3 linked regions of the Homo sapiens genome follow. The protein of the gene in region 1 purifies or fractionates together with the protein of each later gene. This does not show direct contact. Each region holds a gene or a part of one and is shown in the gene's direction. Other genes may lie near its edges. The genes, in order: MAP3K6, RNF123 and AFG3L2.

Region 1 (3,646 bases):
GAAGGTCGGAGAGGGCTTGTGGGCGGGGCGGGTCCTTGGGGCGGGGCCAGGCTGGCGTGGGATGGGCGGGGCTTCTCTGCCCACCTCGGTCCCTTTCCTCTCTCCCTTACCTCCCCTCAGGTTCTCTCAGCCCCTGCATGAAGAGATCGCTCTTCACAGACGCCTGCGCCACAAGAACATAGTGCGCTATCTGGGCTCAGCTAGCCAGGGCGGCTACCTTAAGATCTTCATGGAGGAAGTGCCTGGAGGTACCTGCCCTGTGTGGGATGGGAATGAAACCGAGGTGTGAAGCATGGGACCGAGGCAGGCAGGGGTAGAGAGCCCTAGGGGGAAATGCACCCTAGTGCGTGTGGGTGGTGTAGCCTAGAATTAGCTGAGGAGTGGCGCTGGGTGATGGAGTTGGGCTACAACATGGGTGTGTCTGGGCCTTGAGCAGAGAGATGTGGGCTGGAGCCAGTGGGTGGGAAGAATGAACTTGGACTGTCCCCACCCAGGCAGCCTGTCCTCCTTGCTGCGGTCGGTGTGGGGACCCCTGAAGGACAACGAGAGCACCATCAGTTTCTACACCCGCCAGATCCTGCAGGGACTTGGCTACTTGCACGACAACCACATCGTGCACAGGGACATAAAAGTAAGCCCTGGGGCTGGCCCGCCCTCATCTGCTGAGGGTGGCGGGGAAGGAAACATGGTCCCAGACGCAGGCTGGCAGTTTAGATTAAGTGAGCAGACCTGTTGCAAAGGGTAGGGAATTCATCAGGGAGGCTCCTTAGAGAAGGAGGGGAAAGGTTCAGCTCTGAAGCCAAACCAATTGTCAGCTCCCAGAGGGGCATATAAGTGGGATGGCAAGGGGAGAGTGTTGACAGAGGCAGGACCAGGCTGGGATCTCCAGGAGATGGGATCCCAGAAAGAGGGTCTACTTCTGCTGGCAGGGGCCCAGACCAGTGTCCACTAATGGCTGTCAATCAGGGGGACAATGTGCTGATCAACACCTTCAGTGGGCTGCTCAAGATTTCTGACTTCGGCACCTCCAAGCGGCTGGCAGGCATCACACCTTGCACTGAGACCTTCACAGGTAACAAGGTGTGGGGGTGGTGAGTGGGGATGCTGACCTGGGGCAGAAGATCTCTTGGAACTTTCCAGGGAAGGGGGTTTCTCCTAGGCATGGAGTTAGAGTCCTAATGGGGAATGAAACCCAGGGTGAGTGATTGGGCCAGGGCTGAGGTGGTGGCATCTGGAACTGGAGCTTGGAGAAGTGATGAAATTGACTTTAGCACTTGAGGAGTGTTGATGCAGGCCAAGGTGGGAGTTGGAGGAAAAAGCAGGTGATGGAGTTCAGGGGGACGAGGCAATCCAGGATGTGTGCTGGAGCACTACTGTGGGTGATGGAGTCTGTGAATGTGGTGGAGCCCAGGATGAATGACGGAAGCCTTGGCAGGCGATGGAGCCCAGGGTGGTGATGGAACTCAGGATAGATGTTTGATGACCAGGATAGGTGTTGAGGTATATTTTGGATGATAGGTTCAGTATGGGTGCAGTCGGCCTGAGGATGACGGCATTCCCCTCCCTGCTCCAACCCCATGATGAAGCCTAGATGGGCATTGGTGCTCCTGTTTCTGTCCTAGGAACTCTGCAGTATATGGCCCCAGAAATCATTGACCAGGGCCCACGCGGGTATGGGAAAGCAGCTGACATCTGGTCACTGGGCTGCACTGTCATTGAGATGGCCACAGGTCGCCCCCCCTTCCACGAGCTCGGGAGCCCACAGGCTGCCATGTTTCAGGTGAGACCTCTTTGGGCCTGGCCCATGGAAGTGGCATAGGGCCAGCCTGGGCCTTGGACACCTCTGAATGTCACCCTTGTTCACCCTCCCCCCACAGGTGGGTATGTACAAGGTCCATCCGCCAATGCCCAGCTCTCTGTCGGCCGAGGCCCAAGCCTTTCTCCTCCGAACTTTTGAGCCAGACCCCCGCCTCCGAGCCAGCGCCCAGACACTGCTGGGGGACCCCTTCCTGCAGCCTGGGAAAAGGAGCCGCAGCCCCAGCTCCCCACGACATGCTCCACGGCCCTCAGGTGCTTGCGGGTGGCGGGATGGGCACAGTGGAGGGCAGAGGAGTTGTGGAGCTGTGAGGGTGGAGGAGAGCCCAGCTGATGGCTCTGTCCCTCCCTCAGATGCCCCTTCTGCCAGTCCCACTCCTTCAGCCAACTCAACCACCCAGTCTCAGACATTCCCGTGCCCTCAGGCACCCTCTCAGCACCCACCCAGCCCCCCGAAGCGCTGCCTCAGTTATGGGGGCACCAGCCAGCTCCGGTGAGACCAAGGCTCCTGGGATGGGTTCCTTTTGCCTGGTTTTGCCTTTTTCTCCTCTCCTACAAAAGCCCTCCCTGGGGACCTGGGCACCTTGACCACTTGTGAATGTGGCATTTGGTGCCTCCCCATGCCCTGTTCTGGCAACTCTAACTTGGACTTGTTGTGTCCTCTCAGTGCGGGGTTTATCTATGTTCATGCCTGTGAGGTAGGCATAAAAGTAGGAGAGCCAGGATTCAAACCCGGCAACAGAGGTGACTGGCCGGTTGCTGCCCGTCCTCAATCAGCAGCTCGCCCTTGTGCCCAGGGTGCCCGAGGAGCCTGCGGCCGAGGAGCCTGCGTCTCCGGAGGAGAGTTCGGGGCTGAGCCTGCTGCACCAGGAGAGCAAGCGTCGGGCCATGCTGGCCGCAGTATTGGAGCAGGAGCTGCCAGCGCTGGCGGAGAATCTGCACCAGGAGCAGAAGCAAGAGCAGGTGGGCGGCCCACTCTAGCGCCCCCTGGTGGTCGCAAAGGGTCAGGACACCTGTTGATGTCCCCGCCCCCTACCTCCGCGGCAGCGTCTCTTTTGGCTGGAGCACTCGCTGACAACCCCTCTCTTCCTTCTCAGGGGGCCCGTCTGGGCAGAAACCATGTGGAAGAGCTGCTGCGCTGCCTCGGGGCACACATCCACACTCCCAACCGCCGGCAGCTCGCCCAGGAGCTGCGGGCGCTGCAAGGACGGCTGAGGGCCCAGGGCCTTGGGCCTGCGCTTCTGCACAGACCGCTGTTTGCCTTCCCGGATGCGGTGAGGGCGCCTTCTGGTAGTTAGAGCTGCCCAACAACAGGTAGTGAGTTCCCCGTGCCTGGTGAGGTGCCAGGACTTGACGTTCCCAGATTCCCTGTCTCCTCTGTGAAGATCAGGCCTGCAGCAAAAAACCGTCTGCCCAGTCCTAGCTTCCCAGGCCTTCCCTGGACCTCAAGCCCGCCCACCCCACTCGCCTCCCGCCGAAGACTTTCTAGGCCTTTCCAACTCAAGCCCTGCCTCTAGTTGAGGCTCAGCTGTCTCAGCGGCGCCTCCCTCCCCCTGCAGGTGAAGCAGATCCTCCGCAAGCGCCAGATCCGTCCACACTGGATGTTCGTTCTGGACTCACTGCTCAGCCGTGCTGTGCGGGCAGCCCTGGGTGTGCTAGGACCGGGTAGGAGGGGAATGCCACGGGCCTCCTGCCAGCGAGGGTGTGGTGCTTGCTGGGCGCGGTGAACATCGAATGGGGCCGGTGGGGGCCAGGCGGGACAGGGGCAGGCAGGCGCCGGTGGGGGCGTGACTAAATGGACATCTCCCATACCGGCACCGCCTGGGGCCTG
Region 2 (3,646 bases), on another chromosome or scaffold:
GACTGGCGGGTACAGGACAGAGCCATCCAGCAGCTCAGAGGGCTGAGCCTTTCATACTTCCAGAACATGTCCCATTCAACACAGACTCCCCTGGCTGGGTGGTGGCGAGACTGGAATCTGCCCCAAAGGAACCACAGGCCTAGGGGCAAGGGTTGGACTAGGTGGCCTTGGTACTGACCACTTTGGGAACCAGCATTTCTCCCAGCCTTCTTCTTCCAGACATCATCAGCACAGCCACCTTTGAGAGCGGACAGGTTATGTGCTATGCAGACAGCACTTGTTATTCCCTGGGCTCTTCACAGCATCTCTAACATAAGTCACTATTCTGTTTTTACAGATGAAGGAATTAAGACTTAGAGAGGGCTACTTTTTTTTTTTTTTTTTGAGACAGAGTCTTGCTCTGTCACCCAGACTAGAGTGCAGTGGCACGATCATGGCTCACTGCAACCTCCGCCTCCCAGGTTCAAGCAATTCTCCTGCCTCCGCCTCCCAAGTAGCTGGTATTACAGGCACATGCCACCGCGCCCAGCATTTTTAGTAGAGTCGCAATTTCACCATGTTGGCCAGGCTGGTCTTGAACTACTGACCTCGTGATCTGCCCGCCTCAGCCTCCCAAAGTGCTGGGATTACAGGCATGAGCCACCGCACCTGGCCACATACTTTTTTTTTTTTTTTTTTTGAGACAGAGTCTTACTCTTGTTGCCCGGGCTGAAGTACAATGACACGATCTTGGCTTACTACAACCTCTGCCCCACCAAGGTTCAAGCTATTCTCCTGCCTCTGTCTCCCGAGTAGCTGGGATTATACGCATGCGCCACCACACTCAGCTAATTTTTGTATTTTTAGTAGGGATGGGGTTTCACCATGTGGCCAGGCTGGTCTCGAACTCCTGACCTCAGGTGATCTGCCCGCCTCGGCCTCCCAAAGTGCTGGGATTACAGGCATGGGCCACCACACCCGGCCTGGACTGGTTATACTTTTGAGTTTAGTGGAGAATTCGGCCTTCTGACCTCCTGCATGCCAGAGTCTAGGACTAGGCACAGCCCTTTTTCTGGAGTCTAGGCAGCCCCCCTGTGAGCTCAGGGGAAAGGATGGGATTTAGTGTCATCTGGCTGATTTCAAGGACTTGTGGACCCCTGGCAGCCTCTCACTCTCCCCAGGAAACCCCTGAACTTCCAGAACCTGCCAGAACATTTGGACCAGTTGCTACAGGTGGACAATGAGGAGGAGGAAAGCCAGGGTATGTGGCCACCTCTGGAGTGGGGTTGGGAGGTGCAGAGCTGGGACGTAGCGGGCCTGGAGACGTCTGGTGAGCTCAGGACACCCTATGCATCCTGTCAAATGCTCCACCCTGCCTGACCCCACCTCTCCTCTTTTCAGGACAGGTTGAAGGGCGGCTTGGCCCATCCACTGTGGTCCTGGACCACACAGGCGGCTTTGAGGGGCTTCTCCTGGTGGATGATGACCTGCTGGGGGTGAGTGAGGGTGAGGTGTGGAGACCCAGGTCCAGCCCCTTCTGACATAGCCCCAGGCTCCTCCTGATGTGGCCCTAGTCTCTCTACTCATCTGATGGGGCTGCAGCCAAAACTTGTCCTGACGTGGCCCCAGACCATTGTGTTCTCAGTCCTCAAACTCTCCCACTAAAGCCCTGAAACAGTCTTGATGTGGACTCAGCCCCCAGCCCTTCCCAGCACAGCCCTGAGTCCCTCTCTCATCCTGCCTTGGCCCAGGATCCTTCCTGATACAAGCCTACCCGCTCCCACCGTCCTCAGGCACAGTGCAGTGTTGGCCGCCACAGGCAAATACCACCAGGGCTGGCTCAGTTGGGGATGGGGTCTTTTTCCCTTGGGGAGATGCTCTGTGTGCCTGGGAGCTAGCCCACCACCCCTCTTCTTCACCCAGGTGATTGGACACAGCAACTTTGGCACCATCCGCTCTACCACATGCGTGTACAAAGGTGAGACCTTACCCTGCTGTGGCCTAGGTAGTGAGGAGAAAGTTTAAGGGCCCAGGCATGAGGCAAGAGGCAGTCTTTGTCCACCTCGTGGCCCTAACTCAGCTCTTTCCAGGGAAATGGCTCTACGAGGTCCTCATCTCCTCCCAGGGGCTCATGCAGATCGGCTGGTGCACCATCAGCTGCCGCTTCAACCAGGAGGTACACGTTGGGGAGGGGACCCCTCCCTGGGCCCAGGGAGAGCTTCTCCTGCCACAGGCCTCATCAGGTCTCCAGATCCCCTCAGAACTGCCTAGGACCCTAACTAACCTGGACTGCCCTCTGGAGAAGAAACGTGTCCCACCCAATCCCAGGCACCCCAGCTCAGAGAATACCTCTTACTCTTTCCCTCAGATCATCTGTTCCCTTCTGTAGAGCCATATGCATCCAAGGCTGGTGATTGGTGGGCTCTGGCCCAGACCCTGCCTGCCTCACCAGGGACCTCATAGGCATTTCCTCCCTAGGAGGGGGTTGGAGATACACACAACTCCTATGCCTATGATGGCAACCGCGTGCGCAAGTGGAATGTGACCACAACGAATTATGGCAAGGTGAGAGCCAAGCCCCTGTGGGTCATCCGCCCCATGACTGTTACTACAGCTTATTTGGAGCCACTGGGCAGCCATAAGGGACTACAGGGCACCAGGGAAGGGTCAGGGACCCAGGTCCTTTGTCCTTGTGGCTAGTCTCCCTTGGGTGGTTCTGGAAACGCAGCTGGGGTTCAGAGTCAGCAGGCTGCTGGGCTTCTGTGCATCTGGTGAGGCCTCCTCTCATGGCAGGCGTGGGCAGCGGGGGACATCGTGAGCTGCCTGATTGACCTGGATGATGGCACTCTGTCCTTCTGCCTGTGAGTTTCCTATCTCTATGCACAGGCCTGGCCCCTGGGGCCTCCCCAGACTGCCCCCAGTTTCCTGGGCCCTGTAAGGGGCCAGACTGAGTTTGATAGCCTGAGGGTGGGCAGCCACATGCTTAGCACTGGCTCACAGACCCACCCTTCTCCCCAGGAACGGTGTATCACTGGGCACTGCCTTTGAGAACCTGTCCAGGGGCCTGGGTATGGCCTACTTCCCAGCCATCAGCCTCTCTTTCAAGGAGTCCGTGGCCTTCAACTTTGGCAGCCGTCCTCTGCGATATCATTTTGTGAAGATGGCTGTGGGCTGCTCAGAAGCTCTTGGGGAGGCTGGGATGAGGGGCTCCCTACCCCAGGGGTGCCATGGGCTGGTGGCAGGCCCTGGCTGCTGCAGAGTTAGTGGGGGGCCATGTAGAGTGTCGAAGAAAACTTTCCTCGCAGCAGCCTGGTTGGTTGGGTGCCCTTGTCTCCACTGAACAGATGAGGAATGTGAAGCATCCTCCCTAGGGAGAATAAGTGGGCAAGTTGTGATGCAAACCAGCCCTGCCCTAGAGCCCAGGCCCCGGGGTGGGGGGTGGGCAGTGGAGAGGGAGTAGGCATGTCTGAGCCACAGATAAGGCGTTGCTGGCTTAACTCTGGCACCTACCCAGTGGCAGGCTACCGGCCCCTGCAGGACCCACCGAGTGCTGACCTGGTGCGGGCACAGAGGTTGCTGGGCTGCTTCCGGGCAGTGCTGAGTGTGGAGCTGGACCCTGTGGTGAGCTGGGGTCTGGGCCAGGCGGGGTGGGGGGCTTCCACAGCCT
Region 3 (3,646 bases), on another chromosome or scaffold:
ACTCGGGAGGCTGAAGCAGGAGAATCGCTTGAACCTGGGAGGTGGAGGTTGCAGTGAGCTGAGATCACGCCATTGCACTCCAGCCTGGGTGACAAGAGCAAAACTCCACCTCAAAAAAATAAAAATAAAAACATGTGGTCTTTTGTGCCTGGTTTATGTTCACTTAACATAATGAACAGGATTGATTCAAATTGTGGCAGGCATCAGAACTTCATTCCTTTTTGTGGCCAAGTAAATGTGCCATTGTTTGGCTGTTCCACATCTTGTTGATCCACCCATCAGTTGATGGCCATTTGGGCTGTTTCCACTTTTTGGCTATTATGAATAATGCTGCCATGAACATCGGTGTACAGATTTTTTGTGGTCATAGTGTTTCTCTTGGTATATACCTAGGAGTGGAATTGCTGGGTGATATGGTAACTCTAACTTTTTGAGGAACTGCCAGGTTGTTTTAATTACCTGTGCCATTTTACATTCCCACCAGTAACCTGTGAGGGTCCCAGTTTCTCCACATCCTTGCCAGCACTCGTCACTGTCTTTTTATTACAGCCATCCTAGCTGGTGTGATTTGGCATCTCACTGTTGTTTTGATTTGCACTTCTCTAATGACTAGTGATGTTGAGCATCTTTTCATGTGCTTATTCCAATAATTTTTTAATGTAAAATATGATCCTTTCCCATTCCCTATTTCTCTCCTTCTGAACGCAAAATGAAATAAAAAAAGAACAGTTTGAGAAGTATGAAAAGATTATATACAATAGTGTGGTCAGAAGATGATCATCTTGTTCCAGGGATCCTAACTTTTTACTTGTCTTTGGACTTTGAAATTTATAATGTTTTAATATTTGTTTATTTAACACAGATGGTATGCTGTAGCTTATTTATGCTACCATATACTTAACTGAAAAGTTAGTTTAAAGAGATGGATCTAAAAAGCATTTGACAAGCTTTTAGCTATATTTAAATTTAGTTGTTTCACTGAATGTACTAGGTGATTATAAAAATTAGATTTTTCATCATATATCAGTACTTCACCTAATATCTATGCAAGCCATTTTTCCAACACAGGTGATAGAACTAAGTTATTTAAATGAGCATTTTTAGATGCTGTCTTAGTTTGCTATTATGTGAGCTATATTGTCTATTAAGGTAAATAGTTGCCTGTAATTATCTATTGACTACTAATACTTTCATCTTAGTTCAGAGGGCCAGAATTATACCAGGCTTACATTAAACGCTAGAATAGCTTAGGGTTATCATGAGTCAAAACAGAATTATATTTACACAAAACCTTTATTCATTGTACTGCTGATTTAAAAATTAACTATGGATTTGGCTGTCCATATTGTGTGACTGATCAGTTTGGGCGTATTTCGGTGGGTAAGCTGTTCTGTGTTCATTTTTTAGGTGCTGATGTTGCTAATGTCTGTAATGAAGCTGCGTTGATTGCTGCAAGGCATCTGTCAGATTCCATAAATCAGAAACACTTTGAACAGGCAATTGAACGAGTGATTGGTGGTAAGGAAACTGAACATAACTCAAGTGGAAAGGCTGATAAAATGAATTTGAGGCCAGGGATTTCTCTGTTTGGGCAAGAACTAGAAGCAAAGAAAGTGTATCCACTCAGCCCTGGGGCCCACCACATTTGTGCTCTCTTGGTGTCATGGCCCCTCCCATGCCTCTCCTCCCTCTCCTCCTTCTTCCTGCCACCGTCCCCTGCCACCTGCCCTCTGCATGGAGGTCCATGGTGCTGGGTGAGTTTGAGATGGCAGCTCACGAATGCTTTGCTTGCACAGGCAGCCAGCAGCGAGGTGTCTACCCATGAACTATACCAATCAAGTTTGTTAAAAAGCTCACAACCTTCCTGTTTACAAAAGTTTCATCACATGAGTTAGAGGTGCTCTGTGCTAGATACAGGTGATGGGTGTAAAATATCTGTAACAGCCGGGTGCGGTGGCTCACGCCTGTAATCCCAGCACTTTGGGAGGCCGAGGCAGGCAGATCACAAGGTCAGGAGTTTGAGACCAGCCTGGCTAACATAGTGAAACCCCATCTCTACTAAAAATACAAAGATTAGCCAGGCATGGTGGCTCGTACTTGAAGTCTCAGCTACTTGGGAGGCTGAGGCAGGAGAATCGCTTGAACCCGGGAGGCAGAGGTTATGGTGAGCCGAGATCGTGCCACTGCATTCCAGCCTGGGCAGCAGAGTAAGTCTCTGTCTCAAAAAAAAAAAAAATAATAATAATAAATAAAATAAAATAACTGTAACAGGCGTAGAGCTGGAAGTGCTTCCTCAGTCAGCATAGGGGGAGCGCACACAGTGCGTTTTCTTAGCATTCCATAGGGCTTCTGATTTAATCCCTAAAGGCAAGTAGCAATTCAAGAACTTGGGCATTCAAAGGAAGGGGAAGCCCTGCACCAGGCAGAGTTCCACGGAAGAGGAGGGGTGTGCCCCAGGCTCAGGATGAAACTGGGGTGTGACGTGGAAGTGGCCTGGCAGATGGACTTGAGGCAGTCTACCCTGTGTTGAGGGAGAGTAAACTGGTCAGTTTTGGAAAGTCTTGAATGTTAAGCTCAAAGACTTTTAAAATTTTGTCCTATGGCCAGTGTTGAATTAAGGTGGGTTTTTTGTTGTTGTTGTTTTGTTTTGTTTTTTTGTTTTTTGAGACAGAGTCTCATTCTGTCACCCAGGCTGGGGTGCAGTGGCACAATCTCGGCTCACTGCAACCTCCACCTCCAGGGTTCAAATAAACAGCTTTCCGAGTAGCTGCTATTACAGGCACCTGCCACCATGCCCGGCTAATTTTTGTACTTTTAGTAGAGATGGGGTTTCACCACGTTGGCCAGGCTGGTCTCTAACTCCTTTTTTTTTTTTTTTTTTTTTTTTGAGATGGAGTCTTGCCCTCTCCCCCAGGCTGAAGTGCAGTGGCTTGATCTTGGCTCACTGCAACCTCCACCTTCCGAGTTCAAGCAATTCTCCTCCCTCAGCCTCCCAAACAGCTGGGATTACAGGTGCGTGCCACCACGCCTGGCTAATTTTTGTATTTTTAGTAGAGATGGGGTTTCACCATGTTGGCCAGGCTGATCTCGAACTCCTGACCTCAGGTGATCTGCCTGCCTCGGCCTCCCAAAGTGTTCGGATTACAGGCGTGAGCCACTGAGTAACATAATGATCGATGGTATTTTAGGAGAATGAATCTGGCTTTGAAGAGTAGGGAAGCCTCTGGATGGAGGCAGAGAACCTTGCAGTCATCACTGTGAGCACCATGAGCCCACAGCTTATCAGGGGGGAGCACCAGTGACAGCCGTAAAAAAAATGAGGACAGACTGAGAGACCGCAGGAGTGTGGGGCGCTTGCAGAGGCAGCTGGCTCGTAGAGAATGAGCTGTCCTGCATGTGAGCCGGGGCAGGGGTATGCGTGTGTGACTTGGGAACAGGCAGTGGTGGTCCCAGGGTGTGCCAGGTGGAGTGAGATGGGCGGTTGGGGACACTTGGAGCCACCCTCCTGGGAGAGAGGGAGTTGCAGAGGAAATGTTACCCAGTGCTCACATTTGGTAAGAGGAGAGAAAGGTGAGTCAGCAAGGTCACCCGTGCTCATGGTGTACCACAAGCACTGAAGGTGCATCAGCAGACAAGCGAGGAAGAT

What was found.
Region 2: the proteins of MAP3K6 (region 1) and RNF123 purify together in Homo sapiens (affinity purification with mass spectrometry; 2 studies listed by BioGRID and IntAct, with this or other methods). This does not show direct contact.
Region 3: the proteins of MAP3K6 (region 1) and AFG3L2 purify together in Homo sapiens (affinity purification with mass spectrometry, with the first as the bait; one large-scale study listed by BioGRID). This does not show direct contact.

Annotation. Positions count from the first base shown.
Region 1 is NC_000001.11:27,356,843-27,360,488, reverse strand, and holds part of MAP3K6 (mitogen-activated protein kinase kinase kinase 6), read left to right. Parts: intron 1-120; coding exon 121-248; intron 249-494; coding exon 495-631; intron 632-929; coding exon of another isoform or gene 930-966; coding exon 967-1,072; intron 1,073-1,622; coding exon 1,623-1,780; intron 1,781-1,877; coding exon 1,878-2,070; intron 2,071-2,169; coding exon 2,170-2,308; intron 2,309-2,592; coding exon of another isoform or gene 2,593-2,612; coding exon 2,613-2,778; intron 2,779-2,912; coding exon 2,913-3,089; intron 3,090-3,374; coding exon 3,375-3,480; intron 3,481-3,646. UniProt on the Homo sapiens protein: Component of a protein kinase signal transduction cascade. Activates the JNK, but not ERK or p38 kinase pathways.
Region 2 is NC_000003.12:49,695,983-49,699,628, forward strand, and holds part of RNF123 (E3 ubiquitin-protein ligase RNF123), read left to right. Parts: intron 1-1,160; coding exon 1,161-1,240; intron 1,241-1,380; coding exon 1,381-1,475; intron 1,476-1,902; coding exon 1,903-1,957; intron 1,958-2,069; coding exon 2,070-2,155; intron 2,156-2,457; coding exon 2,458-2,544; intron 2,545-2,772; coding exon 2,773-2,840; intron 2,841-2,997; coding exon 2,998-3,123; intron 3,124-3,485; coding exon 3,486-3,600; intron 3,601-3,646. UniProt on the Homo sapiens protein: Catalytic subunit of the KPC complex that acts as E3 ubiquitin-protein ligase. Promotes the ubiquitination and proteasome-mediated degradation of CDKN1B which is the cyclin-dependent kinase inhibitor at the G0-G1 transition of the cell cycle.
Region 3 is NC_000018.10:12,346,145-12,349,790, reverse strand, and holds part of AFG3L2 (mitochondrial inner membrane m-AAA protease component AFG3L2), read left to right. Parts: intron 1-1,407; coding exon 1,408-1,518; intron 1,519-3,646. UniProt on the Homo sapiens protein: Catalytic component of the m-AAA protease, a protease that plays a key role in proteostasis of inner mitochondrial membrane proteins, and which is essential for axonal and neuron development.